Regions from separate parts of the Homo sapiens genome. Here region 1 is linked to region 2. A link means that fine-mapping ties the variant in region 2 to the expression of a gene that starts in the linked region. Tissue or cell type: fibroblasts. Region 2 holds a variant in brackets; the other region holds the start of a gene. All regions are shown on one strand. Distances are between the middles of the regions.

Region 1 (2,690 bases), 74 kb after region 2:
TGATAAGATCACAGGGTCCTGTGAGATACAGAGGGAGGCATCTAATCCAGATGTATGTGGTGTGGAGGGAGGGGTACATTAGTGATCAGGAAACTCATAAACCATACAATGTTTGAGCTTTCTCAAAGAACCAGCAGGGCAGCTCCTGCTCAGCTAGGCAACTCCTCTTTTTGCCATAGATCTAGCTGTTCCATTCAGCCATTCACTCGTGGCTGCAGTGACCTTCCAGGTCAGTCTGGACTCTGGAAATTGCCTCCATGGTTACCTCCCTTCCCATTGATGACATTCTACAGATCGTTCAGTTTGCCCTAGGCCCCTGTCTGTTCTATATAACACTGGTTTTCTGGAAGCCGTTTGGTATCTTGGTAAGAATACCCAGATTTATAAGGGAAAAACAATAACATAAGTGCCTCCTGCTTCTTTGCTCAGATGTTTCAGTTTTTGGGAGATCATTTAGCCTCTCTGAAGCTCACCTCCTCATCTGTGAAAGGCTAGTAATTATAATACTAGTTCTTACATGAAGAGAGGGTGTAAAAATCAAATCAGATGAGGGATATGAAAGCAGGTCCAGCACAGCTCGCATATTAATTGTCTTTGTTAGGGTCTGAGCATAATGGAGTATGACTCCAATGCAAATCCTATAAATGCTGATCCTGTAAGGAGGACGAGAAGCTTTTGGAACTTTCTCAAATATATGAATAGAATTTCAATTGAATTCCTTGTTTGTTTTTCCTAGCATCTCTCAGTTCCCAATCCAGTCTGGATTTCATTCCAGCCATTTACTAGCCTTGCGTTACCTTCTCCTTCAGTTTCCTCTTGGGTATCATGGAGATAATTAAAGATACTTCAAAGAGATATTGCGAGGATCATTTGAAATAAGGAATAGAAAACACCACGTAGTGATGCTTTCTTAGGCAAGGTTTTGACCGAGGAAAGCCGCCCTTCGGTGGGAGCCTGGAGGCTTGGAAATAACCAGTGAAAAAGGGAAGCCCGTCTTGGGTGCAGCACGTTAAAGACCCAAGCTCGCAAGCCTGGGAGGCAGCGCGGCGGGAGGAGCCTGCCCCTGCCCCCAGTAGGGGGCGCCGAAGCGCCGCACTGCAGCATCCTGGCCGCTGAGCGCAGCGGCCTTGGCCGGGCTCAGCTCGCGTCCTGCCGCAGTCCCTCCGCCGCTAGTCGGAGCGAGCGCGAGTGAGGAGACCCCCGCCGGGCCACTGGCACTTGCTTCTGCGGCGAGTCCCACCCACGACCGCAGCCCAGCAACTCGCAAACGCAACCTGAAGCCTGGGCTGCGCAGTGTGGGAGGGCTTCGCGATCTTGGGGGACCCATTCCGAACTTGCAGAGGACCGTAGCTCTCCTGGCCTGGAGAGTGTGAACAGGTGAGTGTCACGCACGTGTCCAGGCAGCTCTTTCGGGACGACTTCCTGCAGACCCATTCCGAGCCCTGAGCGCGCTCGGCCTCTGAGTCGGTCCTCTTGGTCACCGGGTTCTCCTCCCAGGGCGGCTTTGGGGTTCGCTGCGAGGGAGATGTGAACACCAGCAGCCTATCTTGACAGGGCTCTCCTAGCTGAGAGGGAAAATGCCCTTTTGACTTAAGGCTGCATTTTCTCCCTAGCCTGAAAGCAAGTGACTTGCAGTCCACAATGGATTTGTTTATTCTTGCAAGATACCTGTTGAGTTCAGAGCAACATTAAATAGCCAAGGGGCTTATACAATTATCCTGGTTTGCTGTGGGTACTGCGTAGTGATAAGAAGAGGAAGAATTCCTAGTAATGAGACCAGGAAAACTTGATTTCAGAACCAGAGAAGGGGAGGCCAAAAAAGAAGAGAATCTCATTTCCAGGCCTAGACTAGGGTCTTTGCTTCCCTAAATAGCTACACTTGATTTTGATGAGCGCATGCAAACAGAAGTTCCAAGCATGATTACCTTATAAAGACGCTTGCTTGCCCCACCCCCAAGAGGAAGTAGAAAGCATGAACCTTGATAAATATAGCCTTGAGAATGATTTATTAGGAATGAAAACTTTCTTTAAATAAGTAAGTAAATAAGGTTACAGTTATCTAAATATCATAGGTCTAACAGAGTGTAAGCTCTTCGAAGGGAACTACTTTTATTTGTATGTGCATAGCGTGAAAGTGTGGAATAAATCAATGAATGCATCACTAATAATACAGGATTTTAGCTAGCGTTTTTCCTTTTTCCTTTAATTTATGTTTAGGGAAAAAAAAACCTACACCTTCAAACTAAATAGGTATGATTTTACCTTTAGAGTGATAGCAGCTGAGATGTTTTTGTCCTAATAAGCACCATCCACATAAAAAGTGAATGGCAAATTTCAGCCCTACTCAGAATATTTCAGCAGAACATTAGGACAAATGGATTTTCTTAGATCCACGTATGGAAGCTCTCAGATTATGAATTATTTGGAACATCAGAAACTTGGCAACAGTTTACTTATTACAACAATTTACATATTTATTTTTGTTTTCTATCTTGTCAAATGTAACTTTTCACATTTTCATGTGAGAAATAAAATGTTGAAGAACTCCTGTCAGTTTTGTGTCTTCCTTTAAGTGATTTTTCTAAACATAAAATTAGGTTGACAATAACCAGCTGTATCTTTATTAGGTTATAAATGGAAAAAATAGCCCACACAATTTCTCTTTCTTATGTGAAATTCCTATGCCTCTG
Region 2 (2,690 bases):
TCTGGGAAAGTCTTTATTTCTCCTTCATGTTTGGAGGATATTTTTGCCAGATGTACTATTCCAGAGTAAAGTTTTATTTTTTTTCCTTCAGCACTTTAAATATGTCATGCAAATCTCATCTGGCCTATAAAGTTTCCACTAAAAAGTCTGCTGCCAGGTGTATTGGAGCTCCGCTTTATGTTACTTGTTTCTTTTTTCTCGCTGCTTTTCGACTCCTTTACTTATCCTTGACCTTTAGGAGTTTGATTATTAAATGCCTTGAGTTAATCTTCTTTGGGTTAAATATTCTTGGTTTTCTATAACCTTCTTGTACTCAAATATTGGTCTTCTATAACTTTTTTGCATTAAATATCTTTCTCTATGTTGGTGAAGTTATCTGTTATTATCCTTTTGAATAAACTTTCTACCTAGATCTTTCTACCTCCTCTTGAAAACCAATAATTCTTAGATTTCTCCTTTTAAGGCTATTTTCTAGATCGTGTAGGCATGATGTATTCTTCAGTAGGTCACTTCCATTTTTCAGCTCCAAAATTTCTACTTGATTCTTTTTAATTATTTCAATTTCTTTGTTAAATTTATCTGTTAGAATTCTGAATCCCTTCTTTATGTTACCTTGAATTTCTTTAAGTTTTCTCAGAATAGCTTGTATTAGTTAATTCTCAAGCCAGTATAAATAACTACCTGAGACTGGGTAATTTATAAAGAAAAGAGATTTCATTGACTCAGAGTCCCTCGGGCTGTACAGGAAGTATGGCTCTGGAGGCCTCAGGAAACTTACGATTATGATGGAAAGTGAAGGGGAAACTGGCACATCCTACATGGCCTGCAGGAGGAAGAGAGAGAGAAAGGGGAGGGGCTACACACTTTCAAATGACCAGATCTCATGAGAACTCTATCATGAGAAGAGAAAGAGGGAAGTCTGTACCCATGATTCAGTCACCTTCCAGCAAGCCCTTTATCCAACACTGGGAATGACAATTTGACATGAGATTTAGGTGGGAATACAGAGCTAAATGTTGTCACAGCTATTTTGAATTATCTGTGTGGAAGGTAACATATGTTTGTCTCTCCAGAATTTGTTTCTGATTTCTTATTTAGTTTGTTTGGTGAGGTCATGTTTTCCTGGATC[G/A]TCTTGATGCTTGTGATTGTTAGTTGGTGTCTGGCCATTGAAGAGTTCAGTATTTTATTATAGTCTTTTCAGTCTGAACTTTTTTGTAACTGTTCTTCTTTGGAAGGCTTTCCAGGTATTCAAAAGGACTTGGGTGTTGGAATTTAAGTTTTTGTTCACTACAGTTGTATCTGCATTAGGGGGTACTCCAAGTCCAGTAATGCTGCGGTTCTTACCAATTGGCAGAGGTATCACCCTGGTGATCTTGGATAAGATCTGGAAGAATTCTCTGGATTACCAGGAAGAGACTTTTGCACTCTTCCTTTACTTTTTCCCAAACAAACCTAGTCTCTCTCTGTGATGAACACCCAGAGCTGGGGGATGGGTGACACATCACTCCTGTGGCCACCAGCACTGGAACTGTCCTGGATCAAACCTGAAGTCAGCGCATGCCAGAGTCAAACCCATGTCCCATGGTGAGTACTGCATAAGTACTGCTGCTGATTTTCAGGGACCAAGGGCTCTTTAGTCATCAGGTGGTAATAAATCCTGCAGGATTGGGTCCTTCCTTGCAAGGGAGCAAGTGTCCAGAAATGTCATCCAGGAGCTAGGGCCTGGAATGTGGGTCTTATGACTCTGTCCCGTGCCCTCTCCTACCGTGGCTGAGCTGGTATCCAATTTGCAAGACAAAGTCCTCTTTACTCTTCTTTCTGTTATCCTCAAGTTGAAGAAACTGGTCTCTTTTGGAGCTGTGAATCATGCCCTGATGTTGGGGAATGGTGATGCAAAAACTCCCTTAGCTTCCTCTGCTGGTGTCTCATTAGGGCTCATGCCCACCAAGTCCACTGGCTCCAAGCACAGCACAGCACTAGTGCTTGCATAGGAGTTGCAGTCACTGTGGCCTAGACAGTCTTTCAAGTTTATTTAGAACTCCAGAGCACTTTAGCCTGTGGTGGTGAGGCTTGACAAAACTCTAGTACTGGCTGATGAGATGGGTGATTTCCCTCTGGCTAGGGCTAATCTAAATGCTCCCCCCATGGGCATTGACTGAGTTCCAACCAGTGTTTGCAGCACTGAGTTCTAATGCAAGGACCCACAATTGCTGCACTTTCTCCCCTAAGTGCACACATTCCCTCTGTGTGCCACACGGCTGCTGCCAGGGAGTGGGGAGGGGTGGCATTGGCAATTCAAGACTGTCTTTCCTACCCTCTTCAGGGCCTCTTCCAGTGATATGAAGTTAAATCTAGGTACTTCAATCACTTGTCTGATTTTTGGTGCTTATGAAGGTGCTTTTTTAATGAAGATATTAACAGCTGTTAAATTCGGTATTCCTGTGGGGAGGATGATCAGTGGTGGCTTCTATTCAGCCATCTTGCTCTGCTTCCCATTTTATATAACATTTTATCAAAATAAACATCAGTAAGAAAAAGTCCCTTGATCTTGCTATACATTAAGAACAATGTTGTTCATATCTCGGTTGGCAAAATTCCACTTCAGCAGCTATGACAAAATACAGGCGTCAGAATTACTATGAATTTTAGTGTTGCAAATAAGGCATTCTTAGTCTATGTTTTGAAAAATA

Evidence for each region. PIP is the estimated chance that this variant, and not a neighbour inherited with it, causes the effect.
Region 1: it holds the start of RERG, and the variant in region 2 is fine-mapped to the expression of RERG in fibroblasts (GTEx, PIP 0.97).

The regions. Positions count from the first base shown.
Region 1 is chr12:15,219,882-15,222,571 of GRCh38, reverse strand. It overlaps RERG (RAS like estrogen regulated growth inhibitor), which reads left to right and starts at 1,155. Exons shown (of 5, transcript NM_032918.3): 1 at 1,155-1,377. LOC124902886 reads right to left here and starts at 1,904. Exons shown (of 1, transcript XM_047429948.1): 1 at 594-1,904. The coding sequence starts at 1,327. The coding sequence ends at 1,010.
Region 2 is chr12:15,294,137-15,296,826 of GRCh38, reverse strand. The region is part of intron 2 of LOC105369673 (a long non-coding RNA gene); the gene reads left to right. Among named protein-coding and RNA genes, the nearest start is that of PTPRO, 27 kb to the left of the region's middle. The variant G/A (reference allele first, on the strand shown) is at 1,130.